4 separate regions of the Homo sapiens genome follow, and all the other regions are linked to region 1. Evidence: fine-mapped expression QTL. A gene starts in region 1. Each other region holds a variant in brackets. All regions are shown on one strand. Distances are from middle to middle. Region 1 holds the start of THSD4 (thrombospondin type 1 domain containing 4). Region 2 overlaps THSD4 (thrombospondin type 1 domain containing 4). Region 3 overlaps THSD4 (thrombospondin type 1 domain containing 4). Region 4 overlaps THSD4 (thrombospondin type 1 domain containing 4).

What was found.
Region 2: its variant is fine-mapped to the expression of THSD4 in lung (TOPMed, PIP 0.97).
Region 3: its variant is fine-mapped to the expression of THSD4 in esophagus mucosa (GTEx, PIP 0.94).
Region 4: its variant is fine-mapped to the expression of THSD4 in fibroblasts (GTEx, PIP 0.93).

The regions. Positions count from the first base shown.
Region 1 is chr15:71,111,491-71,119,597 of GRCh38, reverse strand. It overlaps THSD4 (thrombospondin type 1 domain containing 4), which reads right to left and starts at 4,127. Exons shown (of 18, transcript NM_024817.3): 1 at 3,900-4,127. It overlaps CT62 (cancer/testis associated 62), which reads left to right and starts at 4,094. Exons shown (of 4, transcript NR_168260.1): 1 at 4,094-4,674; 2 at 5,835-5,967; 3 at 7,304-7,450. RefSeq lists silencers at 3,734-3,823, 3,974-4,113, 4,144-4,203, 4,050-4,227, 4,264-4,313.
Region 2 is chr15:71,325,180-71,333,286 of GRCh38, reverse strand. All of the region lies in intron 6 of THSD4 (thrombospondin type 1 domain containing 4), which reads right to left. Among named protein-coding and RNA genes, the nearest start is that of THSD4-AS1, 140 kb to the right of the region's middle. The variant C/T (reference allele first, on the strand shown) is at 4,102.
Region 3 is chr15:71,622,567-71,630,673 of GRCh38, reverse strand. The region is part of intron 7 of THSD4 (thrombospondin type 1 domain containing 4); the gene reads right to left. Among named protein-coding and RNA genes, the nearest start is that of THSD4-AS2, 65 kb to the left of the region's middle. The variant T/A (reference allele first, on the strand shown) is at 3,757.
Region 4 is chr15:71,292,512-71,300,618 of GRCh38, reverse strand. All of the region lies in intron 6 of THSD4 (thrombospondin type 1 domain containing 4), which reads right to left. It overlaps LOC124903520 (a long non-coding RNA gene), which reads left to right. Exons shown (of 2, transcript XR_007064700.1): 1 at 1-5,460; 2 at 5,700-8,107. Among named protein-coding and RNA genes, the nearest start is that of THSD4-AS1, 110 kb to the right of the region's middle. RefSeq lists a silencer at 5,015-5,309 and an enhancer at 4,559-5,758. The variant C/A (reference allele first, on the strand shown) is at 4,888.

The DNA.
Region 1 (8,107 bases):
TGAGGGGGCTGGGCCTTCAGGACTGAACTAAAGACCCCTCGGGCCAAAAGAGAGGACCCTCTTCCTGGCCTTGGCCACAACTCTCCATTGCTCACTCCTTAGAGTCAAAGTCAGGGCCTCTGTCAAAAAGGAACATGCTGCCTGGGATAAAGTGGCGTATTAACCCACCACCTGTCGCTAGAACCACATTGTAAAGGAAGCCCAGGGCAGTGGTCCCCAAACCTGGGTGTGCGGAAGAATCGCCTGAGGTAATCTTAAAAACGCCAGTTCTCGAGCCCTGCTTCCACCCTGGAGCCTGTGTTTTCTTTCACCAGATCTGAATTTTGATTCAGATGTTCCTAAGACAACTGTTTCAGGAAATAATGATATAGTGGAAAGAACACCAGATTTAGAGAGCTGGGTTTAAGATTTCAGCTCCAAACCTGAGCTGCTGACCTCAGGCAAGTAAGCCTCAACTTTCTTCCTGTACAAGGCAGATGCTGATGTCTCCCTTCTAGGTGGCTGGGAGGATTAAAAGAGAAACCACTGAAAGCCCCAAGCATTGCACACACCAGTGCTCACTAAGCATGGCCCCAGTGAGGCTAACAAGCCAGCGAGGCTGTGGGCACAGAAGTAAGTTTTGACAGGAGGAGGAAAAGAGAGCAAAACAGGCCTAGATGATGAAGGGGTGTCCCAGCCTCAGCACAGCGGTCCTGCGGAGGAGGAGTAAAATTGGGGGATCCCAAGAGGGGGCCAGAGGCAGCAAAGCAGCCTAAAGCCAGAGCTTCCCCTGAATCTTCTCCTCACCTGCGTCAGCCTGCATCATGTGTTGGCTTCCAGCATAACATTTTTAATCCATTTTCACAGCGAGGATATTCAACAAATACACATGAAACCTTTATATCTGCGCATAAGTAAACATCACGATTCTGCATACACACGCAAAGAAAAAGATGGGAAAACCAGAAAGAAGAGGAGAGAGAAGAGAAAAGTGAGATGAGGGGTCAAACCCAGGCAAATAGTCATGTGCTTTCAAGTGTGCTGGGGCCACTAACATGAGGACAGTGTGTTCCATGACCTGGAGAGGCCCAAGGAGGCTGCTCGGGGGAAACCTCAGAGTGGCTGGGGAGGCGAGGCTCATCCAGGCTGAACATAGAGCAGGCACAAAGAATGCAGGGAAGAGACACAGGAGTGTGTGCAAGAAAGGCTGGGTGGGATACACTGCCTGGCAAAATTTAGATCAGAAGAGGGGAAATCTGAATTTCTGAGCTGGGGATGGGAGGTGTGGGGAGGGCAGATAAGACCATGATAGAGACTGGGTGAGTGGAGGGATGGCCTTCAAGCAGGAAGGCGTTGGGATGGCTCTTGGATCAATAAAGTAGACTGGGATTAGGAAACATTTTAAATGCCCTGATGAAAAGTAACCTGGATTCAACCGTGTCCATACAGTACTTTCCTATCTTTCAGTCTTTCCTCGAGCTCTTTCCTCTGCTTGGCCTGTCCTCCCTCCCCACCAGCCTTTCCCATCTCCTTGAACTCCTCCTTAGGCTTCAAAGCCCAGTGGTAACTGCCCTAGCTCCTCCCATGCAGAATCAATTTCTCCCTCATTCGCATCTCCTTGATGTTTTGCACATCCCCCTTGTATTGCGGTTATTTCTTTACTTCCCTTTCTCCCCTGGGTGGTTATTTATCATCTGCTAGCCTGTGGACTCCCTGAAGGCAATGATATTGTCTTGTTCATAGCGTAAGCTCCAGCACATAGTAACAGTCCCTGGCACATAGTAACAGTCCCTGGCACATAGCAGACGCTCAGAAATATCTGTTGGAGATAAATTAAATAGAAGTGAATACTGGGGAGCCATTGTGATTTCTTGAGAGAAATGATGTGGTGAAATCAGAATTTCAGAAATATTAATCTATCAGCATGAAAGAAGATGGATTAAAATGAAGAAAGCAACTCGTGGCTGGGAGTCAAGAGGGGAGATTATTACTGTAATTTGGACATGGTTGAAGGTGGGGGCAGTGGGAATGGAGACAGGTAAATAATTCCTCAGATATCACAAAAGAATGTGGAAGAGATTTTGCGATGAATGAGCTATAAATGTGGGGGACAGAATGGGAGTGTTGGGAACATTTAAACATTGAGACTCCCAGCAATTAGGATAAAAGTGGTACCATGGAGAGAAATGTGGGGGATGGAGAAGACGGCAATACACAGCCTCTGTGTAGGATAACTGATTGCAATCTCCACAAGTTTTTCGAGGCAAAAACAAAAACAAACTCCAAGTCAAAAATCTCCCCACCCCTGATCTTCCTCCCAAACTCTGGGCTGTATTTTTCTTTCGCTAACAGCCAGTAAGAAATATTTCTTTATGGCATAGGAGACTAAAAAGAAGGTAATGCCAAGCTGGTGCCCCGCCCAGTGCTGGGCACAGAGGAGATCACATGAGTTCCACTGGCCAGCCTCCCCACAAGAAACCAACCCAGTTGCTTATTCAGAAGGGGCTCCAGTATCCTGATCACCCAAACTCATTTCCCAGGCCCAGACCTCTGGGAAATCCCTGCTCCAGCCCTGCAGAGATTTATAGGAAAGTCCCAGGACGCCCATCTGCTTGCTTCCTCACATTAATTTCAGGGCTAGGATTTTGTTTTCTAAAGGAATTCAACTATGATGCCAACAAAAATCTATAGGAATTGAAGAGTTCCGTATTTTAAGTCACATTTTTAAAATGTTTGCTTCTTTGTATATTGAGACCCAGTAAGACCCTAGTAAGCCCAGTTACTCCATCACCTCCAACAATATTAATCAAGTAGAAGACACGCGGATTTTAAAAGCTGTGTGATCCTTGAAAAATCTTCAGACTGTCAGGGGTCCTGGGTGCCTCCAACTGTGAAAGGAGGGTTGGACAAGGCGATTCCTTAGATCTCTCTCGGGTATCTATTTCTCTAATTCCAAATTCCAACAGGCATCCAATGATTGCTACCCACGTCCAAGCTTTAGACTCATAGCCCGAAAAGGGCGAAGCGCAGCGTGGTAGAGATCGCAAAGGAGACAGGAAGAGAAGCAAGCATGCACTTTTAGTAAGACGGCAAAGGAGGCTGGGAGGTACGGTGCTGGGTGCGGACTGCTTAAAAAACTTACTAGACCACAAATTCCAGATACTTAGGTGGGCCCGAGAACGCCCTAAAATCCCCTTCCCAAGTGAGGGCTGATGTTATTTCAAATAAAAAGAAAACTTAACTTCCAGATCTGTAGAGCTCCAAGGTGAGCTCGCTGTGCAAAAGCTACTTCTGTAAGTGCGCCAAGGGGCCGCAGGTACTTAGGCTGCACTTGAGGAAGTGTCCAGAGTTGGCGGAAACAACCCATCCACTCGGGCTCCAGGCGCTCGCTGGGTTGCAGCAACTAAACTGAGACAGACAGACACACAGATCCGAGGCCCCAGGCCAGGACTCAAGGAGCGCTGACCGAGACTTGCCCGGCTCTCGGGCCCCAGGCGGGAGGGAGGCGAGGCTGAGGTGGGGGGCGCACGGGCTGGGTGTGCACTCGCCGGTCCCCTCCGACCCGACCCGGGGAGCACGGGGCCCCGACCCGGGGACGACTGAGGTGGATTGTCCCTAGAGTTTAAGACTGTCCCTAGAGTCGAGGGTGGAGGGATGAGCGCCGGCGCCAGCACAGAGCAAGACTCCCAGCAAGGAAGAGAACCAGAGAAGGAGGCGCAGCCGTCCGCACGGACCAGGCGCGCGCTGGCTCCCCGAGCCCGGAGCGGCGCAGCCCGCGGCGCCCCGGACACACCCACTGGGTAGCCCGCGCCAGCCCGCCCCGCCGGCCAGAGAGCGGGAGCCGGAGCCTGGGCAGCGGAAGCCGGGTCGGGGCCGCGCGGGCGGCGCGCAGGGGACGCGGGGCGCGCGGCTCTGCTCACCTGGCGGTCCGCGTCCCGGAGCGACCGGCGGCCGCCTCGCCTCGCCTCGCCCCCGCGTGGTTCCCGGCGCCGGGCAGCCCCGAGCGCCGCCGCATGGACGGCCGCCACCGCCGCCCAGCCGCCCCGCGCCCGCCCTGCACGGGCTCCCGCTGTGCCCCGATTCCGCGTCGGGCTGCGCGGGCGGCCAGCGGTTCAGGCGCGCGCGGAGAGCTCTGGCTCAGAGTTTGCGATCCGAGAGCGGGATCCGCGCTCCCTCGGTCCTTCCTCCCTCCCCTCTTGCGGCCTCCCGCTGTCATCTGGAGCCGCTCCTGCCGCCCCCTGGCGGCGACCGCGGGAAGGGCCGGCCCCCATCCGCACCCCTGACCCCGGAGGTCAACAACGGGATGGTCCCTGGGTCCCAGGGGAAGAGACATCACCCAGTAGGAGGGAGTACGGTCTAGACAGAGGCCACGAGGGCGGGAGGGGGCGAGAGTGGAGAGTGGCCCAGCTGGCCAGGGTCGTCTAAGTGAGAGGAAAAGGGAGAGGGCGGTTGAGACCAGGCCCTGAATTCCGCGTTCATCTTATCCTGAGGTCTGTGGGGACCTGTTGAAGGACTGGGGCAGGGGACGGACGCGGGCATCCTTCCATTTGGAACAGCCATTCCGGCAGCATCAGGATGGGGCGGAGGCAAAGCGGGGAGTGGGCGAGGCAAGTGGTGCTGTAAACCTGTGCGAGAAGGGGGCGGTGACTCTAAGGGCAGGAAGGAGCCCTGGTCACACACACACTCCCACGCAAGGTAGGACGCGCTGGGCTCCTTCTGAGGCCAAGGGGAAAGGACAAGAGCCCTCCAAATTCCAACGGGGGTTAGACAGCATGGGGAGGAGACACACACACCCTGACGGCCAGAGCCGTTCGGGATTCTTTCTTGTCTTATTCAGAGTAATATTTTGTTGGGGAAAAAAAAGCCTGCTGCAAAAAAATAATAATTCTTCTCATTAGTAATGATAAAAATCAAACTTTGATCCCTTCATTTTACGAATTGGGAAATTATTGCCCCCAAAAGGGCATGACCAAAGTGACGCGTTTAGTTAATGGAGGGAAAATTGCTAGGGCCCCGTTTCTTGAGTCCTAATTCAGAGCCAAATTCTTTACATTCGAGCCAAGGTGTTCAGAGCTGGGAAGGCAGGAAATAGAGTGACTGTGAGGAACTGTCTCTTCTTTCCCCAGAGCAGGGAGGGGGTGACAAATATTTGAAGAGGCTGTCCAGATACAGGCGTTTCCCTAAATTTCAGTCAGCCTGTTTGTTTATCGCTGCCTCTAAAGCTTGCCTGCAGGGGTTGTTTTGAAAGTGCAGGTATACCGAGAGGACAATGAAGGAGGTGGCAGAATGCAAGCTCCCTGCCCCAGAGCCAGGCAGCACCAGGGCTGGGTGCAGAGCGCTTCGTGGGAGCAGAAGGGAGCTCCCAGGGAAGATTGTCCTCCAGAAAAAAAAAAAAATTAACAAAAGGGAAAGAGGCTACTCAAGAGATTAGGCCAAAGAAAGAAACACCATTTTGAGCACCGACTACTGGCCCGGAGCCTGGCAGAGCCAGTTCTGATTGATTCAAGAGCTGGTTCCAATGGGATGAAATAATTCCACACTTGATCAAACAGATTTTGATGGGAGGCACCTGGTGTAAATGGGATTAGATTAATTCTGAGTGTCACGAGTCTCATGGGTCCAAATTAAGTCGATCTAACAGCTCTAGTAAATACTGGCCAGTTTAAACCATTTAGAACTGATTTAAAAAAAAAAACCTGCGCAACTTTAGAATGTACTTAATGTCACTGAATTATACACTTAAAAATGGTTAAAATGGAAATTTTTATGTTATGTACATTTTACCATAATTTTAAAAAAGCAAAACTAATAAGATTTGTTCAAACAAGATTGATTTATTCATTCATTCGAGACAGGTATTCAGTGCCGAGTGTGGCCTTGGTGCTAGGATTCAAAGAGGAAAGGAAGAAAACTTTCCATTCTAAAAGAAACTCCACGTGAGGCGAAGAAGATGAAATATAGTCAGAAAACCATACCAGTAGGTGGTAGGTAAATGCAGAAGTATTTAAGAGCTCATACAGGAGTACCTGCCTCAGGACAGGGAATCTGAGATGCTCTGCAGAGCTGGATCTTAAAGAACGGAGTGAGTTCATCACATAATGTCTGGGGCGAACAGGGCTCAGGAGCAAAGGATGTGGTTTTGTTTGTTATTTTTTAATTTTGAAATAATTTTAGACAAGTTTCACAAATAGTACAAAGAATCCCCTTATATCCCCCACCCTCTTCCTCTAATGTTAACATCCGACATAACCAAAGTATGATTATTAGTGAGCAAACTTGATTCGACAGACCTAGGCTGGCTCCTTAGAAGTGATTCCAGTCCATTTTCAACCTTGGTCAAATTGTTTTGACCATATTTTGCTTATATGTCACAAGAAAGTCTCTTTCTTTAAAGTCAAGATAATACTTGTTTTATTTGTTTATTTATTTTGAGAGAGTGTCTTGCTCTGTCACCCAGGCTGGGGTGCAGTGGCATGATTGCAGCTCACTGCAGGCTCCACCTCCTGGGCTCAAGCAATCCTCTCACTGCGGCCTCCCAGGTAGCTGAGACTACAGGCGTGCGCCACCACATTTGACTAATTTTTTTTTCATTTTTTATTTTTAGTAGAAAGGAGGTATTGCTGTGTTGCCCAGGCTGGTCTCAAACTCCTGAGCTCAAGTGATCCTCCGTTCTTGGCCTCCCAAAGTGCTGAGATTACAGGCGTGAGCCACAGAGACCAGCCTATACTCATTTTAAACAAAGAGATATTTACATTATGTGTAAGCATCAGTGAATATTAAGTATGCTAAGACAGCAAGTTTTAATCTTTCAGTCCTGTTATATTTCTGCTTTTATCCAAATGTGTCTGTCACGTATGAATCAGAAGAGCAGAATGTGGTCCTTGCATATAAAATAGCTTACTGACCCTCACCGAAAGAGAGAGCCAAGAATATGTGCTTCAGATCACAGTCAAAGGCTAGCCTGTGCTTACCTAGGCTGGGGGCCTGCCTGGCATGTCAGTGTCAGCTATACACAGCATCTTGGAGGGTGGGTCACCCCTTTGCATATCTGATGTGGTGAGCTACTCACTACCTCATAAAATAGCCACATTGTTCTTAGAGGCTCTTTGTTAGAAATTCCCTTTTAATTTTGACTTGAAACCTTTTGCCCTGTAATTATTATCCACTGGCCCTAGAGGCAGCTCCTAAAGGGACAGACAAGAAACATAACTCTTCTGTCATGTGTCAGTTCTGTCTATGTAAGACAGCTCTAGCTTACACCTGTTGTCCTATTATAATTATTAATTAATTATTAATAGTACCCCCCTTCATTCTCTTGTCCTAGTTAAGTTGATAAATGATGCATACGACATCCTATAGAAGACTGTCACCACCCCACCTCACTGATCAGCCCTCTGCCTACAGCCACACCCACAGAACATTCAGCCATTTCTCCTGTGGTTCCCAGCCTGCAGCACAGCGTCTGCACGTGGTGAGGGCTCCCAAATCTCTGAGGAATGAATGGCTCACTGCTGAGAGCAACCTTCTGGGAGTTCAGGGCATGTGGAACTGGAATAAGAGCAACGTGTGAACAGATTACAGGAAGGCAATGCAGGACAGCTGGACCCTTTGGGGGGAAACTTATGGGGAACACAGTTTTCTTACTTATAAGCACTGAGATTGCCTGAGAGGGGAGAGATGATGCAGAGTGTCCCAAATGTATTTGACGTGGAATCCTTTTACCAGCGAAACATCTCTTGGGCCTAGAGTTCTGAAAATTGCACTTTGAAAAACACTGCTCTCAGCTCTTACAAACCTCGTGTTTTCATCCTAACTGTGCTTCAGAGAATTGTGTCCCAGCAGGAAAGGAAACCCCCGTATAATTCCCTACGTTGCTAGCATTTGGAAGTGGGATGAAAATGGACCTACATTCAAACCCCTAATTTCAAGCTCTGAAGGAGGTACCAGGATCCATCACGATGCTTGTAAAATTGTTCCTTTCATTTTCCTGGTTGTAAACTTATGCAGACTGTAAAGTCAAGGCAAGCCTGTGCCCAGCAAATAATAAGAAAATAAGGGAGGCATGGTAAACAAAACAAAACACTTTGAGAGTTGGTCAACTTGCTGTTATTTTGAGCTGTTTCTAAAA
Region 2 (8,107 bases), 210 kb before region 1:
AAAGCCAAAACTCAGAATGCCCCTCCCAAGACCCTTTCAGCCTAGAGACTCCAGAGAAAGGAAGCTCACACTCTTGGGCTGAGCTGCTAATGCCTGCAATGCACCTGCTTTTCTAGCCACAAGTGGCTCTTTATGCCCCCACCTCGTGGGCAGCAAAAAGGGAAGATGTCCTTCTCACCTAAGCATCCCAGCCTCCCCATAGGAACAGCACTATTAGGGAGGCCTAAAAGGGGGGAATACCCAAATGGAGTCTAGGTGAGCTAGACCAGATACCAAGCTTAAAGGCAGAGGTGTCCGATCTTCCCTGGGCCACACTGGAATAAGAATTGTCTGGGGCCACACATAAAATACACTAACACTAACAATAGCTGATGAACTAAAAAAAAAAAAAAAATGTAAAAAAATCTCAATGTTTTAAGAAAGTTTACAAATTTACATTCCGTCTTGAGCCACATGTGGCCCACAAGACACGGGTTGGACAAGCTTGTTTAAAGGGCTCAGCTTGCAGTTAATGAATTCATCACTCAAATATTTGGCGAGTACTCTCTGCATATCAGGCATAATTCTAGGTATGGCAAAAGAGAGAGAGAGACGTCTGCTGTCAGGTTGAATGGTCCCTATCTTAAGCCTGTGACAGCAATCGGGCCATAAAATGTTAACATCACAAGACTTCAACCGGGGTTCAAATCCGAGGCATGCTGCAGTCTAACTTTGTGACCTTGGGTACCTGACTTCCCTGTTAAGGGAAGGATTAAATTAAGGGGCAAATTTGAAGGCCAGGAGCAGAGTCCTTTTCTCCTTCTAGGATTCCTGATTCCATGTCTAGTTTACTCCTTCTGCATTTTACAGCCAAGAATATACACACAGACACGTACCCATGTACACACATACATCATCCTTTAAGTAAGACTTACCATACATTCATCTCTTATCCTTATAGCCGTCTGGCAGTGTAGGTATTTGTGGTACCCATGAGAATCAATGCTCTTCGCAGACCTCCAACTACAGGCAATGAAATTGACCAACGGCTCCAGCTGCTGTGCTCTGAAATCCATCACTGTAGCTGTGTGGGCACCAGACTGCACTTCTCATGGGCTGATTCCAGAGGCAATAGCGGAACCCAGCAGGGGTACTGAGACAAACCTATTCCTGGGAGACATGGGACTCCTCTGACAGCTGAGTTTGGCTGCAGGACTCCCTGATGGCATTGTGGACCCTCCTTGGCAATCTAGGACCCTTCCCTACAACTGCCCCTTCTTCTTTCCTTCAGTAGAGATCAGACTTGCATTGCTATCTGACCATTCTCCTAACCTGTTTCTTTTAATAAAATCCTTGAATGTACAGTCCTGTCTTGATGTCTGCTTCCTGGAAGATGCTGACAAACAGAATTTTATCATGTCTGTATTACAGATGAAAAAGCTGAAGTTCAAGGGACAAGTAGGCAGTCCAATGTCACGGGGTGGGGAGGGGGGGGCAAGGAATGCATTGTAATTCAATATTAGCTATTTGTGAATCAAAATGCCACAGAGGCCTCCCATTCCCTCCACAAAAAGTCCTGGAGATGGGCCCTGAGGTGTTCCCTGTGAAGCAGTATGCCTTTCTCCATTTCCCTAGGTCCTACAACTCATTAGTGGTGGGCCAAGAGCAAAGCCTAGGTTTTCAGCATCTAAATCAGGGGTTCCTCCTCCCGGCCCACCATGCTCTGGGGGCCAGACTGCAGAGCAATCCCAGCTAGAGTGAAGCTCTGCAGCTCACCCCGCCCCATGGTGCCTGTGGAGCCACAGCAGGTTTTTGCATTTAGTAAGTGTGTTTGGAGACAATCATTTCATAAAAGTTAATCTGTTCTGGGCTGGAGCCAGCTGAGACTGATAACTCCAAGTCTCCCCAAATGAGAACTTCAAATGCAAAGTCACATTTCTTCCCAGTGATCTTGGCCGCCTGAGACCTGACTACCTTCAGAGGAAACCAGGCATTCATGTATCCACATCCAAATTTTCTTGGCCTATCCCAGTTGGAGATTTCAGAGCTGCTTCTTCAATGCCAGAAGAAGTACGAGGAAGGGCAGCCGCCCCTCTGTCACCATCACAAGCCAAACACACTCCATCTGTACCTAGGTGGCTGGGGAGACGCCCAAACAGCACCTCAGGAAAACTAATCAACACTGTCCAAATGGCTGCAGCAGAAAACTAGAAGGGGAGACAAACAGCTTTGCCAGCCAAAGGCCACTGAGAGGAGCGCAGGAGAAATGAGCTCAACGCTCTGTCTACACCCGGGAGCCACACAGGTGGGAGAGCAAATTAGCACAGCCTCCCTCCTTCCTCGACAAGGCCAGATCGCCAGTGGCACCCGGTAAACGGGTTAGTGTCCATGTCACTCAAACCTCTGCTCTGTGTGTAGACTGGTGTCTGTTTTATTTGAAATTACTTACCAACCTAGTCGCTCTCTTACTCTTGGCAACCAACAGAGCGATGGACTGGTGACAGCAGCAGCAGAGGCAGAGAGAGAAAGTGAGAAAAAAATGAGTGGGTTTATATGACAGTATTGTACATCAGAAGGAACAAAGCATAGGACTGTTCTCTTCACCTGGGTCCTGGAAGAATTGAGAGGGGCAGGAAGGAAAGCGCTAACAGTTATTGAGGGGTTTACTGCATGCCAGACACTGCTAATGGATTTACATGCCTTATGTCATCTAATCCTCATAGTAACTATAGAAAGCTGATACTATTGTTATTACTTCCATTTTACAGAAGAAGAAACTGAAGTTCAGAATGGCGAAGCAACTTCCCCAAGGCTTCCCAACGAATCACAATCCTGGCCTGGATTTTAGCAGAGTTAGTGTAATTTGAGAGCATCCTCTACTGACGATGATACACAATTCCCCATGTTTGTTGAATACCTACCGTGTGCTGCGTGTTTTAATTAATGACAACTGCATGCCATTCTTAGAATAGCTTTAGAAAGTACATGTCATACCCATTTCTGAGGAGTGGGGACTGAGACTCAAAGATGAATTTAACAAAGGTCCTATAGCTAGGAAGTGGGGGAGCTCAGATTGAAAGCACATCTGAGTGACTCCACAAGACCACAAGGCCCTCCTCATAGGCACACCCAGGGCAGCTCCCACCCCTCCTCGTTTGGCCCAGGAGGGCACAACAATAAACAATACTAGAACAATCATGGTGGTCTTTTTTTTTTTTTTCCTTTGGAGACGAGGTCTTGCTCTGTGGCCCAGTTTAGATTGTGCAATGGTGCTATCACAGCTCACCGCAGCCTCGACCTCCCAGGCTCAAGCAATCCTCCCACTTCATCCTCCCTAGTTGCTGGGACCACAGGCACGTGCCACTATGCCTGCCTAATTTTTTATTTTTTGTACAGATGAAGTTTCACCATGTTGCCCAGGCTGGTCTCAAACTCATGGGCTCAAGAGATTCACCCACCTTGGCCTCCTAAAGTGCTGGGATTATAGGCGTGAGCCACCACGCCCAGCCCATAGCAATAATGGAACACTGCCTGAGTTATTTTCAATGTGCTAAGCACCCTTCATTTTATTGTTACCACAGCCCTGTCTGTGAGTGAGTGGCTTGACCTCAATTTCACGATGAGTAATTCGAGGCTTACAAGGGCAGGGCACACAAGTCACCTGAGCAGAGCTGGCGTCTCGGGAATGTCCAGCATACTGCCTGAGACATGACATCTCACAGGGGACAACATCGACTCCGTCCTCTCCTTTCCACTCAACAGACATTCGCCTTTTGGCTGAAGAAACTCTCTAATGCAAGTTGTTAAGGAGGCAGCAAAGGACGTTTCAGGGTTTCATTCTAAGCAGGTTTCCCTAAAAGAACCTTCTAGAAGTTATAAGCAGTGTGGGTCACTCAAAGGTCTGGCAACCTTTCTCTCCAACTTGAACTTTCCTCAGGCTGAAGCCTCCCACATTCTGCCGCAGACATCTCAGGAAACGTCTCTGTCCTTTCAAGTCCGTGAGATTCCAGCCGAGGCCTGACCTCACACTCAGCCTGGCCCGCTCCCTGTCGCCAGGCAGCCAGTTCCTTGTTTTTCCTCCCATAATGATGGATACAACCTGTCAGGAAAGCTGGGAATATT[C/T]TTAGCTCCTAACTGATTTTTATCTAAATTTAACTCTGAGCCACAGCACAGCACAAGCAGACTTGCATCCAGAGGGCAGCCAACATTTTCATGGCGACACATCACAACGGAGGCTTGGTATTTCTCAGATGCCCTGGCTTGGCTTGAAGCTAAAATAAGACAAATGGCTCTTTAGGAAAAAAATCTTGATCTTGTAGTACTAGAACCATCAGACTGTAGAGTTGGAGAGAAACTTAGATTTATCCAGCCTCATTCTACAGATCAGGAAACTGAGGCCCAGCAAGCACGGGCCACTTGAACCGCAAAGCTTGGTCTTGCTTTTTTCACAATACCACATTGCCTCTAAGGAACACAATGAGCAAATTAGATGGGACATCTGCAGAGGGCCATAACTTTTTATTTTGTAAATCATAAAATCAAATGTTCTGGGTCATGCAGCTAAAGCTGGTTGAACCCTGATCTCTAGTAAACAGCACCAACTGTCTGATTCAGCACATTTAATAAGCCCATGGAAAGTGGACTTTTTCCAAGGTTCAGAGTCTAAAAAAAGTTCCAACTGAAACAATTCAGCAAGTCATTCTCTCTCGCTAGAATGCTGGCTCCTGGAGAGGGGGGCATTATCAGTTTGATTCACTGTTCTATCTCTGAAGCCTGGAATCGCACCTGGAACATAGTGGATGCTTGATAAATATATATTGAATGGCAGACTGAATGAATTAATGAACGAATGAACAAATGAATAATTAGGAGGAACAGAACCATTAGGCCTGAATGACTGCTTGTAGGAAAGGGAGGGCAAAGCCACCAGCAAAATAAAGTGAGATTGTGCTTTTCCATTCTTCACCCACCAAGCTATGCAGCAATCGATGTCTTCTAGGAATTAGATAAAAGGTTTTGCGTGGCCATACAATAAAATGCAGATGGAGATCCCCAAGTGGCCACTATCATTCACACGGAAGGCTTGACTGAAGATTGGACTCAAAAGAAAAAGAAATAGAGGAACAATAAAAACAAGAAGCACGAAAATACGGTGTCCCAGTCGGGACCATGACCCAGAGGGTCACCATGGTTCTCCCAGCAGAATGCAGCAGTGAACTACAAGCCTCGCCTCTGAGCCAAGGTTTGAGAAAGGAGGACACGGCCTATTGTAATGGAGGAAAGAAGGTGGCTTTACTTTTGTCCCATTCCTTACCTTAGTAAGTTTGTGGGAAAAGAGGCCATCATTGCTACAGTATGTTTAATTGAAAAATCACCATTCTTGCACAGACCCGGCTGAATTAATACATTCTGAGGCTCAAATGGTATCAGGTGTCCTAGGCCCTACATTGTTAACACATTTATTTTTGCAAGCAGGTCACTATATATAAATACAAAAGGTTGTGTTTGTGTATATTTGAAGGCACATGATATGGGGAGTAGGGTGAAGCAAAAGGGGCAAGAGAAAAATCAAGATTTATAAAAAAGAAATCCAAATACAGCTTTATGCATTGAATGCCATATACATTCAGCATTGTGCTTTAAACAATTTTTTTTTCCACAGTGGGTGGGGGGTGACAAGAAGGGAATGGGGGTTTCTAAAAGAAAGGAAATGGCATTCAAAAAGTAAATAAAACAGAATTCTTGACTTCTTAGAGCTTTAACTTATTAGGAAGACAAACGCAATGAAACTTTCATAGACAAAATAAATATTATACATATTAAAACATAATAAGGCATTAGTGAATTGGTTTTATAAAGTGTGTGGTTCAGGGAGTCCCAAGAAAGGAAGTTCTAGGTGGGTCAGGTCAGTCAGGGAAGGCTTCCCAAGGGAGGTTCCAGAACCTGGTGGAAGGCGGCTAAGGTTTAGCTGACAGGAGCTGTTTGAAACTGTAGGCCGGTGGCAGGACAGTGTGAGCCCCTCCATAACTATGGGAATTTATGTATTTCACAGGGGAGAAAAGGCCACCATGAACAATTAAAAGAAGGAATGGAATGAAGTGGTCTATTGGAGTGTTTGAGCTGGTTTTTTGTTTTGTTTTTCAGATGGAGTCTCGCTCAGCCACCCAGGCTGGAGTGCAGTGGTGTGACCTCGGCTCACCACAACCACTGCCTCCTGGGTTCAAGCGATTCTCCCGTCTCAGAATCCCGAGTAGCTCGGATTACAGGCACCCAACATCATGCCTAGCTAATTTTTGTATTTTAGTAGAGACAAGGTTTCACCATGTTGGTCAGGCTAGTCTTGAACTCCCGGCCTCAGGTGACCCACCCACCTCGGCCTCCCAAAGCGCTAGGATTACAGGCGTGAGCCACCATGCTCGGCCTGTTTGCTTTTTAGAGACAGGGTCTCGCTCTGGCATCCAAACTTCAGTGCAGTGGTATAATCATATCTCACTGCAGCCTCAATCTTGGGCTCAAGTGATCCTCCCACTTCAGCCTCTTGAGTAACTGGGATAACAAGCATGTGCCACCACACCCAGCTAATATATATATATATATATATATATATTTTTTTTTTTTTTTTTTTTTTTTTTTTGAGATGGAATCTTGCTCTGTTGCCCAGGCTGGAGTGCAGTGGCGTGATCTCGGCTCACTGCAACCTCCACCTCCCAGGTTCAAACAATTCTCCTGCCTCATCCTGAGTAGCTGGGATTATAGGTGTGTGCCACCACACCTGGCTGATTTTTGTATTTTTAGTAGAGACGGGGTTTCACCGTGTTGGCCAGGCTGTTCTCAAACTCCTGACCTCAGGCGATCCACCCGCCTTGGCCTCCCAAAGTGCTGGGATTACAGGCATGAGCCACCCTGCCCGGCCACCACCACTATCACCGTTATCATCACCACCACTATCATCATCACCACCACCATTTTCTGAGTGTTCACTCTGGACCAGCAACACTCTGGTTGTTACTGACATTAAGCCCTTGACATGTAGTTTACTCATTGACCCCTCACAACTACCCTGTAGAGTATGTATCATTTTTTATCTCCACATTGTGAACGAGGAAACCAAAGCTTGGAGGGTTAAATCACTTGTTCTAGGTCACATTAGTGGCCAAGTCTGGGTTCAAACCATTTCTTTCTTTCTCTCACGCCATCTACTTCGTGCTATACCCAACTGACTAAATTCTGCTCCTGGCAGCTTTGCAGAATAGTTATATGGAATTATTAAGTAGATGTTCTTGCTCTACTCGAATGCAACATTTATCACAGAGGTGGAAATTGTTAGAGGATTTCCCATAATGTATTTTACATGCATATTATTAGAATTACTCAGGGGTGAGGAAAAAAAAGTTCCCAGGAAAAATATTTGGGCTTTTTTGGTTCTGGTTTTGATGTTATCATAACCTATAGGTGTCCCCTGGACAAACTATCTAGAGTTCTTGGAGTTTTTTTGTTATTGTTTAATTAGTGTCATACATAAAAGTCAAATGGGCTCTAATTTAGCATTTCCTCTGACTAATCTCTGACCTGGGCTTGGCATTTCAATAGCTGAGCCTCAATCACAAGAGGTTCGAAAAAAAATTCCTAAGCAGTCAGTACTGACAGTCCATTGCACAAATGTGGAAATTGAGGTTTGCAATAATCACAAATCATGTAACCTTGTACTCTGACTTGAATTCCAGGGAGGACTGTGACTGTGACATATCCCAGTTTTGAACTCCCTTAGAACATTAGCTGGACATTTCTGGTATCCAGGTTCCTTGCATCCTTTTCATCCCCACACTTGCCTCCTTCCTTCCACTGGGCTGTCAGCTCTACATACATGCAGACAAAATCAGTTTCTTGGCCATCTCTCTATCACCAGTGTCAGCTTCAGGACTGGTTGGCACTGGGTAAGTACTCAGAGACTGTTGAACTGAGGAATAAAGAGAAAGCTGATGGTCTTGCAATGGAAGGAAAAGGAGGATAGCATACTGGAGGTTACAGATAACAGTCTCATTTTTCTGGATGAGAGATATGATTCCTGTACATGTATGAGGAGTTTCTTGCAACATTGGGCATGACAAGTCAAATCTATACATAACCC
Region 3 (8,107 bases), 510 kb before region 1:
GCTCTTTCCTGGACAGCCCAGACTGTCATTACCATTCCAGAAACAATGCAGTGAAGGTCGCTGTGCCATATCCTTACAGACTTCATGCTTGAATAGATGGGGAAAAACCTTTCTCTGTCTTCAGAGAAGGGAACTGTGCTTTGTATTCTATTGCACAGTCATGCTCAGAGCACTCACACCTCTTTAATTATATAAAGAAAGTTTTTGAGGAAAGCATGACAAGAAACCCCAAAATTGGGGGTAAAATATAAACAAATGTTTTGGCTGATGTACTGCACATTTTTTAATCACAAAGTGTGTTTTCAGAGTATACTGAGCCCTGCCTAGAATGGCTCAAATTAAAGATCAAAGGCAGTGCCGTGACGAGACAGAGCAGAGCTCTGTGCCAATTTAGCATCCCCGTTTCCCCTCCCTGGAATAGCCATGTGGTCATCCATTTGCCTAAGAAGTGCTTGTCTGAAGCACCAGTTAAGACAGCAAGCATTGATTAAAGGAGAATTTTCTGTTTTTTGTCTGTTTGTTTTCTTTTTTTACTGGGGGACTTTAGAGTGTAGTTAGATAGCAACAAATTTTAAAAAAGAAAGAACATGATTGAGAGCCAGCTTACAAAGACATAAGTTTGATGCTTGGAAAGTGGAAAATGTCAAGAGATTCCAACTAGAGACAGGAGGAGCAAAGCCGGCCAAGAGAGACAGAGGCCCCTCTCTGAGCACACAAGGGCCTGGCCACGTGGCTTGCGGGTACAAAGGCGCCTCCAAGGGTTCCAGAGCCAAGCCATCACTACCTTACAGCCAGAGTAACCCGAGGAAATAGGCTCCTGAGAGCTGAGGTTGCAAACCACGCATCCCAAATGAGAAAAAAGTATAGAAAAGCAGGGCTATCAGCTACATATAGGATGGATTTGATTTGGGATGGGGGCAAGGGAGGTAAATAAACAAAGAGAAGCTTACAGGGAGGCTGAGGCAACAATGTAGGTATGGGATGTGGAGTGGGGTGTGGGGAGGTAGAAGACGCAAGTCTACCCAACATCACAAAAGAACAACCAGGGGGCCTGAGCATCTCTTTATGTGTCACATCCTCTAGAGCTGAGTTCTCAAGAAACTACAAATGGAAAATGTGATGGAGAGTGACTGAGGAGGACGCTTTAGCTGGGATAGTTAGGGCGGGTGATATCTGAGTGTGGCCTGAAAGACACAGGGAACACGGAGGCCCAGCAGCTGCGGAAAGGCCCTCAGGGTCCCACTGGCTCTTCTGTCTTGAAGCAGGGTCCACACTGCCAGGTCTCTCAACAGTGCTTGATGCAAAAGGGTTTGGGTCTCCTCTACTGTCTGGCCGCCCTGCCCCCTAGATGAGGCCCAGTTTGTTGCAATCCACATTGAGATAAGGCTGGGAGACCTGAAGGCTGTCAGTTGTCCAGCTTCAGCCTTACTGGGCAGACAGTGCGGGTCTCTACTGCCAGTTCAGTATGCTGCTGTTCATGCAGAGGGAGCCCCCATGAGTTTTCTGGCCGTTCCACTACATTGTTTATTCAGATTGAGCCAACCCGGTGACAGATTGGATGTAGAGGCTGACAGAGTGAGAAAAGTCAGGGTGTTTCAAGGGTCTGGTAAGTTACAAACGTAACCAAACCCCGTGATAACTGTTTTGCTTTAGACACACACCACTAGATTATAAAACTGCCTTGTTTATCTTCGCATCGCAAGTGTCTAGAACAGTCTCCAGCTCACCATAGGCACTCAATAAATATTAGTTAGATGGCTGGATGACCAACCATATTTCTGTCACTGCCAGCCTCATTCTGCCTGTTTCCCGGGGATGCCTGGCTGGTGCCTCAGCAGGACAAGCAGCAGTTGTGAGTCAAGGTGGGGGCTTCCCAAACTTGCATGGATTTTCTGTTTTCTCACCTGGGGAAGAGTCACCAAATTCATCTGTAATCAAAGACTCTTGAACGTCTCCATCAAGATCAAGATTCGATTCTCAAAGTGTATTGACACCCTTGTTACGCAAAGTGTCACCTGCAAACTAACAGCATCAACATTGCCTGGGAGTTGTTAAAAATGCAGAACCTCAGGCTTCACCCTAAACCTCCTGAAGAGGAATCTGCATTTTAACCAGATCCCAAGGGGACTCGTGTATGCGTCCCAAAGGGTGAGCAGCCCTGGTCTCTGCCAAATGGGCTGAGACCTGGTGCACCTTGCTTCAAATTCCCGTTCTGCTCCTTGATTGCTGCGCCACCTTGGATAAGTTAATTTCTCTGATCTCTGGTGTCTTCATATTTAATATGAGAATAAATAATGCATAGGGTTGCTATGAAACATGAGGAAGTGTGAACATAAAACTATCCAGTTAAGAAGGTTTCAAGTAAGGCTGTGTGTCATTCTCAGCCTTTCCTTTTTTACCCCCTTGTTAATGAAATTAAGATGATCCAAGGCTTCTGCTCCTCTGTCAATGGAATCCTCCCTCCTTTCAAAGCTCTCTCCTTTTCAACCCTGAGTGTATCCTAGAATCACTTTGAAGGCTTTGAAAAGCTACCGATGCCCAGGCCTTACCCACAGGACTCTGACTGACTTGGGCTGGCACAGGCCTGGCCATGATAACTTGTTGAATGTTTCCCAGGTGATCCTACTGTGTGCCCATGACTCTGGGGCACCCAAACTCTGCCACTTACCTAAGGGTAAGAGAATGCTTAGCTGGAATATGGAAGGGCCCAGCGAACGTTTATCAGGTTGTCCATATGTGAACCTTTCTAAAGCTTTGTCTTCCTGAAAACATAGTCTGCTGGTAACCCCCACATGAAGTTCCTGTTCATTGTGAAAACCAAATTTCTGCCTTGACCCAGGAGATGCTCTGCTTGAAACCACCATATAATTAAACTCTTCAGTGACAAATGACTCACAGCTCAACTGGAAAAAATCTCTCCTTACTCTGAACCAAAATCTTCCTCTCCCCTGCCCTATTGTACAATACCCTGAAAATAATCTGTAATTCTCATTCCATGGGGATTCTTAATTTATAAGAAGAGAAATATTTTTCCCCTACTGTCATTTCCAGCTCAGATCCAACAGGCGGTCCTCATATGAGATTTCTGGACCCCTATAACCTTGGTCAAACTCCTCTGAAGGCAAGTAACTGGTTATTTGATACCCATGTGTCCTTCTAAAAGCTAAACCTACTTCTCATCTAGTGAAGGGGCTGCCATTTACAGCCAATGGTGTTGTGGTACGGCCTGAGCTTGTGCAAGCTCAGATTCTCTGAGGAAAGTCATTTCAGTAGCACTGGCCCTTTGATGCCTGGGGCTCAAGTCACTGATCAAAAGCCAATGCCATGATTCAGCCCTACTGGCCCTGTCACAGATGAAGATGTCGGAGAGGTGACATACTACACAAACCCATATGAGCTGAACATCTTCCTCTTGAGGTTCCCTCCTTAGGATGGATGAATAGAACACACTGATCAGAGAAGGAACATTTAACTCCCCTTCACACAGACATCTATTCTGACAGTCCTCTGCCCAGCAATGGGATAGCTCTCCTTTCCCTTTCTGTAACCTCAGGACATGTTCCTTTTCTTCCATGAACACCTAAAAAAAAAGAGTGTCAAAACCAACACAAAAGAAACAGAAAATGTATACAGACAAATCTCCATGGACTAAATTCATATAACAGAGAATCTTCCTATGTCCTACCTCCCTTCCTCAAATATTAGACGTAGACAGTTTTATGGGTAAGTTCTATCAAACATTCAAGGAGCAGATAA[T/A]TCCCACTTTACAAGTTGTTTCTGAGTACAGAAAAAGAAGGAAAGCTGCCCATCTCATTTAATGACATAGTATGTCCTTGATTCCAGAGCTAGATAAGAACAGTGAAAGCAGAGAAAATAACACGTCAATGCTACCTATTTTGAAATGTCATGATCTTGAGTAAAACACTAGATAATGAAATCCAGTGGTATGTTAATGTGGTAATGCGTTATAATCAGATGATTTTTATCACAGAAGGTAAGGATAGTACAAAATCGGATAAAATCTCTAAATGTAATTCATTCCATCATTGGTACTACAGAAGAAAAATCATATGGGAATCTCAAAAGATGCAATTTAAATAAAGCATCTTTTGATGCTTTAAAAATCTGTTAAAGTTCAATGCATATTTAGTGTAAAAATTCTTAGAAAAACTTAGACACAGAAGGGCACATTATGAATCTGAAAATGGTTTCTACCAGAACCTACCTCCACAGAAACCACCACTCTCAAAAGAGAAAATTTAATACACATTCCACTGAGGGTCTGGAAGAAGACAAAGATGCCCACAGTCACCATGTTGTTCAATAAGATATAAGTGCAATAACACACAGGAAGGAAATAAGAAGTATTAGTGCTGGAAAACATGAGAAAAGGTTGCCATTGTTTGCAGATGTTGTTTTTCTTACTTAGAAAACCGAATAAAATCCAACAACTCTGAGAATTAGAGAGTACCAAAAGATTGCAAGTTACAAGATACCATAAATTGTACGTCTCTATAACCAACAATAACCAACCACAAAAAGAATGCAAAATAACATACTCTTCACAATAGCACCAAACATTATGAATTACTTAGAAATTAAGCTCACAAACACTGTATAAGATCTTTGTAGAAAAATGTATAAAAATCCTCTAAAAGGACGTAAAAGAAGATCTAAATAACTGGAGAGATGTGCCACAATTTTGAATGACAAAACCATATTTGATTTACCCATTTCTAATCCTGCAGAGTCCTCCAGGAAGTCTTCCGTGACTCTCTAAACAGGATTATGGACTGCCAGTCTGTGCTATCCCAGCTGCTGTGCCCCTCTCTACCTTAGCAATCTATCACCTCTTAGTCTCCACCCCCTCCACCCTGGAATTGTGAGCTCCCTGAGCAGACTAAATTTTCCTCATCCTGCACTCCTAGCATTGAGCACAGTGCTTGGAATATAGTTACTGCTAATTAATACTTATTGCATGAATGAATAAAAGAGACCAATGCTTGTTTGCATGGTCCCACTTATTTGCTATTTGTCAAGATAAACACAAGGACCACTTTCATCTAAGAGTAATGGATATGGGAATGACAGTAACCAAGAAGACCTAAGAATCTTAGAGATTTATCATAGTCTCTAGTACCCAACTCTGTCCTTTGTCCTCCTGTTTTTCTCTTTTATTTGAGTGCAGAATTTTTCAAACTTCTCCTCACCTTCTTTCTCATTTCTACATGGTACTCCTCAGTTCCTCAAGAAGCTCTTTCTTTGAGATTTAGTCTCTTGAAGAGCCCCCAATATACTCAACAGGCAATCTCATCTCCAAGAACCCTGTAGAATAGATGGATTTATCAAAGGTCTTCACTGGCCCAGGCTGTGGCTGGTGGCTCACACCTGTAATCCCAGCACTTTGGGAGGCCAAGGCGGGTGGATCACCTGAGGTCAGGAGTTCAAGACTAGCCAGGCCAACATGGTGAAACCCCATCTCTACTAAAAATACAAAAATTAGCCGGGGGGTGGTAGTGCATATCTGCAGTCCTGGCTACTTGGGAGGCTGAGGCAGGAGAATCACTTGAACCTGGAGGCAAAGGGTGCAGTGAGCTAAGATGGCACCACTGTACTCCAGCCTGGGAAACAGAGCAAGACTCCATCTCAAACAAACAAACAAACAAACAAACAAAACAACAACAAAACAAGCTCTTCACTGGCCCACTAGAAAAAAATAAGTATGCCTGGATCCCATCCCAGCCACCAGGAATCAGATTCTTTAGGAGGTGAAGTCCAGGTGTACATGTATGCCCAATATCTGTCAAGATCAATGACAGTATAATGGATTGCTCACCAGATGATCCTAGCACAGGACATCTTTCACATGGCTTTCTCTGCAGGCAAGGCTGACAGGGTCTTTTTGCTGGGCTTGAAGGATGACTTCATGCCACCATATGAGTTGGATTCCTGGCCAATGACAACAGTCCATGGCCTTCTTTAGACTGAAGCAAAAAGCCAGACTAGACTTCCACTTGAACAAGGCATCATAAAAAAAAGAGGGCAGGTGTGAAAACAGGATTGGATTTACACATTAACACCAAATGAGTCCAAAACACAGGGTTTCAATTAAGCCACACACAAAATGCCTTCCATATTGATTACTTTCATCAAGAACTAAGGCTGTCACTCCATGGCAAAGAAATATACTGGCAGATTTATTGGACATTTCCTCCCCACCAAAAACTACTTTTACAGGAAAGTATTCCCCAAAAATGTGATTTAAAGTGTTTACAAATTGAAGATTAAATAATTCAAATATATAACATGTTCATCTATTTTGTTGTTGTGGATGCTGTGGTATGCAGTCCGGATTCCTTTCAGGACTGAGGCTGGAGACTCAGAGCTGAATCCCCCACATAGGACTGCTTTGCTCAAGTGTTCTCACTGGGGGCAGCTGGTATCCACTGATTGGGTGATGGAGGGGCATAAAGGCCCTGTCCCATTGCTTCTATTGGGACAACTCTGAAAGGTCATTGTGGCTCCAGAACTCCCTGTAGGATATGTTAAGTTATCTGTTGGACCTGATCATTCTTGCAGCCCTTACCCTTCACGTGTTGTTCTCGATCACTCTCCCTAGTAGACCTCCTGCAGACAAATCTCAAAGTCTGTTTCCCAGGGAAGCCAATCCATGACATCTGTCTGGTTCATGAATTAATTCACTGTTGTAAGACTTGATTATCTGATTAGATTTTTTTTTTTTTTTTTCTTGAGAGGGAGTTTTGCTCTTGGCATCCAAGCTGGAGGGCAATGGCGCCATCTCGGCTCACTGCAACCTCCACCTCCCAGGTTCAAGTGACTGTCCTGCCTCAGCCTCCTAGGTAGGTGGGATTACAGGTGCCCGCCACCATGCCTGGCTAATTTTTGTATTTTTAGTAGAGATGGGGTGTCACCACGTTGGCCAGGCTGATTTTGAGCTCCTGACCTCAGGTGATCCCGCCCACCTCGGCCTCTCAAGTGCTGGGATTACAGGCGTGAGCCACTGCTTCCGGCCGATTCTCTGATTAGATTTTAAACTTTTTTGATGAAATATTGAGTCTTAACTACTTTAAGATGCCATAATACTGAATACAGTGCTAAGCAAAATAAATATTGACTAGTTCTCATTTCTATCTTTCAAATATTTCTAATGCTCCTCTTTTATAGCATGGGCTCAGGTATCAGATGGCGTAGGTCAAGATCTTGGCTCTACTGTTTACTTACGGGAAATACTTTTATGTTGCTAAATCTCAGTTTTCTCTTCTGTAAGACGGGATTAAAGTACTTCTTTCATAAGGCTATTGTGATGATTAAAGAGTATAATCTATGTAAAGCATTTCGCACAATGCCTGGCACATAAACATTCAATAAATGGTAGTTGTTGTCATTAATGGCATAACACTGGCACCACTCTGGTAACCTTAGTTATTGTCTTAATCATCACTTTGCTCCTTGATTATTATAATAGAAATTGGTGTTCCTAACACTCAGTTTTCCTCTTCATTACCCCTTCCCTCCAATTCTTTCCAGTGGCACCAAATTAATTTTCTTAAAATATGGCTTTTATTACATTTTCCTCTGCTCAATATTTTTCAGGGACTCCTGATTACCGAGACCTCCATCAACTGGCACTGCTGGAGCCATCCAACCAGCACTGCAACAGAAAAGACTCCTCTTCCTTGTCCTTGGAACATGGCTCACTCTGGCTTGCTCTTATTTTCTTTATCAATCCAAATCCTGCCCAGCTCAATGTAGATCCCATTGAACAAATCTCCCCTCAATCTAGGTCCATAGCTACCTCTGCCTATCCTGAGCCTTCACTTACCCTAACAGTATCCTGCATTTCCAATACTGTATGATCAAAGGTCTCCCTAAACTTCTAGCTTTCCCTCAGGCTTCATAACTGACTTAAAAATCTCCCTTGATAAACTCTTCATCAGGACTTCCTACAAAAATTGCTATTCTGAGCTTCTCCATTGGTCCTTAGCTGCTTTTCACATCATTAAAATTTACAAAAAGAGGGTAATAAAAAGTAGATTGAACATCTTGAAAAAAGTATTTAGAACATGTTAGAGAAAAGTGAATCACA
Region 4 (8,107 bases), 180 kb before region 1:
AGGGGGATTGATAAGAGTTTAAAAAGCTGAACCCTGCCTAGAATATGTGCTGAGGAATTTAGTGAGAAAAGTGATGAGAAACTTCTATAAATACAGCATTTGATCCAAAAACATCAACCAAGCCAATCCTTCACAATCAGCAATCAAACTATCTCAAGTTCCCAGCTGTCCCTATGTGGCTTTGAAAGCCCCTGAACGTTAAGAAAACCTAACCAGAAGAGAAACTACTATTTTCCAGAACTCCTTCCAAGGAGGGCTCTGTAAATGGTTGCAAGTCCTCTGATAAGGGGGCCTTTGGTCATGACAACCACAGAGGTATGCCTGAGTGACAGGAGAGGTTCATCAAAATGCCTTCTGCTTTCTTCCCCTTAAACACATTATTTTTTTGTTTCTTGGTGAAGGGGTGTGGTTGCTAAACTGTTCTTTTTTAAAAAACTAATTTTATATTTAAATTTATTTTATTTTTTTAAGAGACAAGGTCTTGCTCTGTTGCCACACTGGAGTCAGTGGCGCAGTCATAGCTTACTGCAGTCTCAAAACCCTGAGCTCAAGCAGTTCTCCCACCTCAGCCTCCTGGGTCACTGGGACCACAGATGCCTGCCACCACCCATGGCTAATATATATATATATATATATATATATTTTTTTTTTTTTTTTTGGTAGAGACAGGGTCTCATTATGATGCCCAGGCTGTTCTGAAACTCCTGGCCTCAAACAATCCTGCCTGGGCCTCCCAAATTGCTGGGATTACAAGTGTGAGCTATCACGTCCAGCCCAATGTTATTTTTAATTGACAAATAAGAAATGTATGAATTTTATGGGGTACAATATGTGTTATGGCACATGTATACATTGCAAAATGATTAAATCAGGCAAATTAACATACCCATCACCTAAGATACTTATCATTTCTTAGTGATAAGGACAATTGAAGTCTACTCTTTTAGTAATTTTGAAATATATGTTATTAACTGTAGTCATGATGCTGTGCAATAGATCACTAGAACTTATTCCTTCTAACTGAAACTTTGTACCCTTTGACTAACAGCTCCCTCTTCCCCATTATAGCCACCATTCTACTCTCTGCTTCTATGAACTGAACTCTTTAGATTTCACATACAAGTGAGATAATGCAGTATTTGTCTTCTTCTGCCTGGCTTATTTCACTTAGCATAAAGTCCTCTACATTCACGCATGCTGTCACAAAGCACATTGTTTTTCTTTTGCTCAATGCAGCCTGCAAGTTTCAGAGCAGAGGTGAAATACCCAGAACAGAGGAGTGGCTGCCTCCAGTGGTCTTCCTTTCTCCCCTTTCTCCTAGCACAGCTTCTTCTCTAAACAGTGTAAATAGTTGAATATCGAAGCATCCACAATTCTTAACTTGCTGCTATGAAGAAACCAAGAATTTTAAACTAAAACTGCAAATGGCTTAAGTTTTAAAACTTCAAAATATATTAAAACATTTAGATGAGTACCATCAACAGTCATGTTACCTCATTCCCGCCTCTTTTAATGGTCATTCTGCTATGTGGTTATTGTTCCTCCTGTCCAACTCAGTAAGATAAAGGCGACTCAGACTAGAGACTCATGAAATAACAGGGCAGAACCTGAGATCACCAGGCAGGTGCTGAGGGTGTACCAGGGACTCAACAACAAAGGTTCTGCTTCTCCAGCCATTGAGGTGATTGAAATAAAAGGTCAGCACTGGGCTGTGTGCACGGCTCACGCCTGTAATCCTGGCACTTTGGGAGGCCGAGGCCGGTGGATTGCCCAAGCTCAGGAGTTCGAGACCAGCCTGGGCAACAGAGTAAAACCCCGTCTCTACTAAAATACAAAAAATTAGCCGGGTGTGGCGGCGTGTGCCTGTAGTCCCAGCTACTCAGGAGGCTGAGGCAGGAGAATTGCTTGAACCCAGGAGGCAGAGATTGCAGTGAGCCGAGATCGCACCACTGCACTCGAGCCTGAGCAACAGAGCAAGACTCTGCCTCAAAAAAAAAAAAAAAAAAAAAAGTCAGCACATATCCAGGGGTCAGTCTCAGTCTCACAGAAGGAGGGAAATATCTAAGGGGGGGACTAGAAGAGAAGAAATAAAGCCTCATCTGGTGGAAAAAGAATAGAGACACCAGATATGTATAGCTAATTTTACAGTATACATAGCTGATACCCCGGTCTAGTAGCAAAATAACAGTGGGATGGCTGGTTAATAACAGAAGGAGGCCTTTAAAAAGAAGAACAAAGTTGGAAGACTTACATTTCCTGATATAAAATGTGCTACAAAGCTACAGTAATGAAGACAGTGTGGTGTTATTGTAAGGTCAGACATATAGATTAATGAAATAGAATTGAGAGTCCAGAGAAATCCTTGTATCTATGATCAGTTGATTTTGGATAAAGGTACCAAGACCATTCAAAGGGACATAGTCCCTTCAACAAATCATGCTGGGACAACTGAATAGCCCCTCCAAAAAATGAAGTTAGAACCCTACCTTACACCATATACAAAAATTAACTCAAAATGAATCAAAGACCTAAATTTAAGTGCTAAAATTATAAAACTCTTAGAAGAAAACACAAGGGTAAATCTTTACATCCTTAGATTTGGGCAATGAATTCTTAGATACGACACCAAAAATATGAGCAACGAAAGGAAAAAAACAGATAAACCATCAAAATAAAAATTTTTGTGCATCAAAGGACTATCAAGAAAGTGAAAAGACAAATGGCAGAATGGGAAAATGTTTGCAAATTATATATCTGATAAGGTTCCAGTATCCAGAACACACAAAAAAACTCTCAAAACTGAACAACAAAAAGACATACAACCCAATTTAAAAATAGGCAAAAGAGCAGGGTGCAGTCGTGTGCAGCTGTAGTCCCAGCTACTTGAGAGGCTGAGGTGGAAGGATTGCTTAAGTCCAGAAGGTGGAATCCAGCCTGGGCAACATAGTGAGACCACCCTACTGTCTTTAAAAAGGAGGAGGAAAAGGCCGAGCGTGGTAGCTCACGTCTGTAATCCCAGCACTTTGGGAGGCCAAGGCAGGCGGATCACAAGGTCAGGAGTTCAAGACCAGCCTGACCAACATGGTGAAACCCTGTCTCTACTAAGAATACAAAAATTAGCCAGGCATGGGGGCACGTGCCTGTAATCCCAGCTACTCAGGAGGCTGGGGCAGGAGAATCACTTGAACCTGGGAGGCAGAGGTTGCAGTGAGCTGAGATTGCGCCACTGCACTCCAGTCTGGGTTACAGAGCGAGATTCCGTCTCAGAAACAAACAAACAAACAAACAAACAAACAAAAAAAAGAAGAGGAGAGCAAAGGACTTGAATAAATATTTTTCTGCAAATAAGATATATGAATGGCCAATAAGCACACAAAAACATGAAAAGAAGCTCAACATCATTAGCCATTCAAGAAATGCAAATCAGAACCACAATGAATACCACTTCACACCCACTACTAGGATGGATATAATTAAAAAAAAATAAATAACAAGGATGTGAAGGAAATGGGTTAATATTATGCTATGTGAATTTCACCTCATTAAAAACAATAGAAGACATATAAATGGGCAATAAGCTCATGAAAAGATGTATAATAATGGAAGCAGGGATGGGGCAGAAACAGCCAAAAGAAAGAAAAGAGCACTGAGGTCCATTACAGTAGCATTTCACAGGTTATCTCATTTAATCCTTTCAAGAGACTTCATGATGTCGATGTTATTAATCTCATTTTGCAGATGAGAAAACAGAGGCTCGGAGCAATTAAAAATCTAGTTATAGCTAATAAATGGCAGGGTCGGGATGAGGCTTCTCAACAAGTTACCAAAATGACTGCAACCAAGATTATAACTTAAAGGAATACGACGTTTTCAGATGCACTGAAAACTGGACCCTTGATTTTATGGCACTTTTACAATGTGATAACACATAAAAACCTGTGATAAAATTTTATGTCCATGAAGCCAGGGACACAAAGCCTTGGCCAGTGTGGAGGATAATGCAGGACAGGTGCTGCGCAGAGTTATGCACGCTGCTTGGCCAACTCCCTCAGCCCTGCTCTGCGTACTGATTCTCTGATCCAAAGACAAACACCCAGAGAGACTTGGCAGGAAGGTGCGTCTTGCCCGAGAGGCACAGACTAATAGAGACAACAGGCCTTAGGGAGGCTTCAGAGGTCATCCGGTCTTAGTGGGCCGAAACACATATCCACGAACCAGATGTATCTGAATTACCTGGGGAGCTCATAAAATGCAGATTCCTGGGCCCCATGCCAGACCTCAGGTGGGTAGGGCACAGAAATGACAATTTTTAAAAAGCTCTCCAGAGGGTAACCCTTATCTATTGTTGATGGGAATGTAAAATGGTACAGACACTTTGGGAAACAGTTTGGCTATTTCCTGAAAAGTTACACATAAGAGTTACCATTTGACCCAGTAATTCCACTTCTAGGTATATACGCAAGAGAAATGAAAACATACGCCCTCACAAAAATGTGTCCATGAATGTTCTAAGCAGCATCATTCATGACTCATCAACTGGATCAAATATCCATCAACTGATAAGTAGATAAATAACATGTGACATATCATACAATTGCCATATTATTGAGCAATAGAAAGGAATAGGCTATCAATACATGCTACAGTATTAATGAACCTCAAGTATGTTATATTAAGTAACAGAAGCCAGATGCAAGAGACCACACAGTGCATGATTCTATTTATGTGAAACATCCAGAAAAGGTAAATCTACAGGGGCAGAAAGTACATAGCTTACTTGTTGCCTAGGGCAGGGAGTGGGAGTGGATGGGGATATTACTGACATGATAAAAATGTTCTAATACTGATTTATGCTGATAGTTGCACAACTTGGTAAACTTACTAAAA[C/A]TCATTGATTGTAAAATGTGACTCAATAGAGCTGGCTTTTTTTTTTTAAAGAAAATGTCCCCAGGTGATTCTGACGTTCCAGCAGATTTGAGAACCACTGAATTCCAATATACTTACTGTGCAATGAGGAACCTGAAACCCAGAGAGGGAAATGATTCACCCAGAGTCACAAAGTGAGTTCATACAGAGCCAGATTGCCTCTGATCTGTGTCTCCACAAAAGGAAATGGAACGCTAGGAGATGACCTGATGAAATTAACCAAAGGGGACTGCCAATCTCAATGAGTCAGTCCCCATTAAACCCTTTTCCCCCTTAACTCGCAGGAAGCTGGTTTGTTTTGCCTGACTGAACCAGGAAAGGGGCTCAGGAAGCAGCTGTAGGCCAGTGAAAGGACTACAGGCTTGGAGTCAGAAGGCCTGGGTTCAAACTTGGCCTTGAGAGTTCATCGTGATCCTGGGCCAGTCACTTCACTTCCTAGGGACTCATCTGGTTCATCCATCTGTAAACAAAGCCGATCATATCACCCTCCCAGGATCACTGCAGGACCAGTAAGGAAGATATTGAGTAATCCAGGTAGGAGATGATTTCCTTCCTGCCTAATCTGAAACCACAGATGTCCAGCCCAATCTGTTTATCTTAAGGCTACAACCAGAGCATCCCTTCCAGCCTGCAGGGCACTCACATTCCCTGACGCAAGCGCCACTCACCCACCCCAATCTTGGACCCAGTCCCAGCTTGATCCCAGTTCCCAGGTGCCATAAAACTCTGGAAAGGTGGAAACAAGACTGTATTTTTTTTTTTTTTTTTTACAGCTGTGAGAACTGCAGACTGAGAACAATAAGTATTTTTAAAATAACAACCTTCCGAGTGACCACCGACGCATCAAATACTGGATTGGGCGTGGTGTTATTATAAGACCAAGAGAATGTAAAACATCCTGTAACATATCTTAGTAGAAGATCTTTGCCAAGGGAAAGAAATCTGTCTTCTATCTAAGAGGAATGTTTGGTAATCGTTTGGGCCTTGGATAAACTCAGGCCATACGTCTTGGGCCAGGCATTTACATTATGGACTAATCATAGAGCCCTGCAGTGAATATAGACATTGTGGAGTAAGAGTAGGTTACCGAGATGGTCATGGCAGCTTTGACACTCACAGAGACATGCAGCCTGTGTCCGGATGGGGAACATTCAGGCCAAGACCCTTTCTTAAAAGGAAAAATGTGAACGCTGGTATCCCCTGAACGGACCCCATCTAAGTGGATCCTGAACTCCCAGCCTGTGCCATCAGATAAGAATGTCAACATGGCAGAGGGCGAAGGTAAGAAGGGACCCGTCCAACTCAGCCTGCTTGGGTCACATTTTGTTTGCTTTATCAGGTCCAAGAGAAATCTGACTTCTTTGAGGGACCTGTGGGTGTCATTCACAGGGACTCCTGGTAACTGAGCTAGACAGTGAAAAACAGGCATTCTCTGTAAAAGGGCACTTGGGACTGACAAGAAGACAGAAGAAACAGAAGCTCGCCACTCATGACAGCAGCACAGGCGTAGGCTTGGAGAAAGAAAGATGAACTTGAGAGCCTTTGGTTCAGAGAGGTGTTACAGACTTGCTGAAAATGTAACTCCAAGCAGCAGCAGAAGATAAATGAGAACAGAAGGAGCTAGAAGGGAAATGGACTAAAGCAGGAAAAATACAAAGAAAAGCAAAGGCTAGGAGATCAAACATCTAAAACAATACTAGCAAACACATAGCACATGTACTGCAAGTGCCCTGCCCCAGGATTCACGGTGGTCTCACACCCTTCAGGGACCCCCCAGGCAGCCACTGGGAGGGACTGTTTCATGTGCACCTCCCAGGCCTGAAGCAAAAGCCTAGACTTTCCACTTCCAGTTAAACATGGAAGAGTGACCATCTTACACCTCCTCTCCCTTCCAAAACCCTACTAAATTTCCTACTGTTAGGGAATTTTAAAACGTTTTAACCTATGAGGACAAAGCAAAAAGAGAGGAGATATCCACAAATAAAGATTTCAGCAAACTTGGAGAAAAGTAGAGGAAAGCGTTGTAATTGAGTGTAAGTTGCAAACATTCATATCCACTGTGGAGGAAACTTGAGAACAAAGCCATCTGGACTGACAGACACCCCAGTAGCCCAGCCCTCGGAGGCACAGGAACCATGAAAGATGAGGCTCTGGTTCATGATGGAAAACTGAGCTACTAAGCCCATGTTATGCAGCCAGGCTACTACGTAACCCCCATGCTCCTCCCCAAGCAGGGGAGAGGTTTACTCTTCAGAGAAACTGAGAAGGGGCTGCAGACCCAGGAAACAGGCACCATGGAGAACAGAGCTCAGGGCAAGGGGCACCCAGAACACCAACCACACGTCCACCTCCACAGGCAGGAGATTCAAGGGTTCTTCTCTGGAGAAAACCAACCACCTGAGAGGAAAACCATCTACATAATGACAGTTGTGTGCAGGGTTCCAACAAAAAAAGATAGCTCAAAATCTGTTCTCCTAAAGAAAAGCTCATCAACCAACTACCCCACCTATGCATGCTGAGCTGCACGGCACAGGGCATCTGCAGCACATGCACGTAGAACTTTCGACCTGTCCAATATGGATATACTCTAAAAGCTGACAGCCATCTGGGGAAAGCCCCTGACAAGAAAGGCAGGGTTAACACAAACACAAAAAGAACTTGGAGGTGAGGGGATAGGCAGGGAAAATAAAAAGAACTTCAAAAGTCCTGTTATATTTGGCCAGGTGCGGTGGCTCATGCCCGTAATCCCAGCACTTTGGGAGGCCAAGATGGGCGGATCACAAGGTCAGGAGATCAAGACCATCCTGGCTAACACAGTGAAACCCTGTCTCTACTAAAAATACAAAAAATCAGCCGGGCGTGGTGGTGGGTGCCTGTAGTCCCAGCTACTCGGGAGGCTGAGGCAGGAGAATGGTGTGAACCCGGGAGGCGGAGCTTGCAGTGAGCTGAGATCGCACCACTGTGCTCCAGCCTGGGCGACAGAGCAAGACTCCGTCTCAAAAAAAAAAAAAAAAAAATCCTGTTATATTCTTAAAGAATGTTAATTAAAGTATGTTAAGATAGTGCATCCATGAAACAAGAACAGAATGCTATGTGAAGGAAATAATCAGAAACTAGAAAGGTCTTAGAAATTACATGGTCATAAAAATTAAAGAATTCAACAGAGAATTTAGAAGACAGT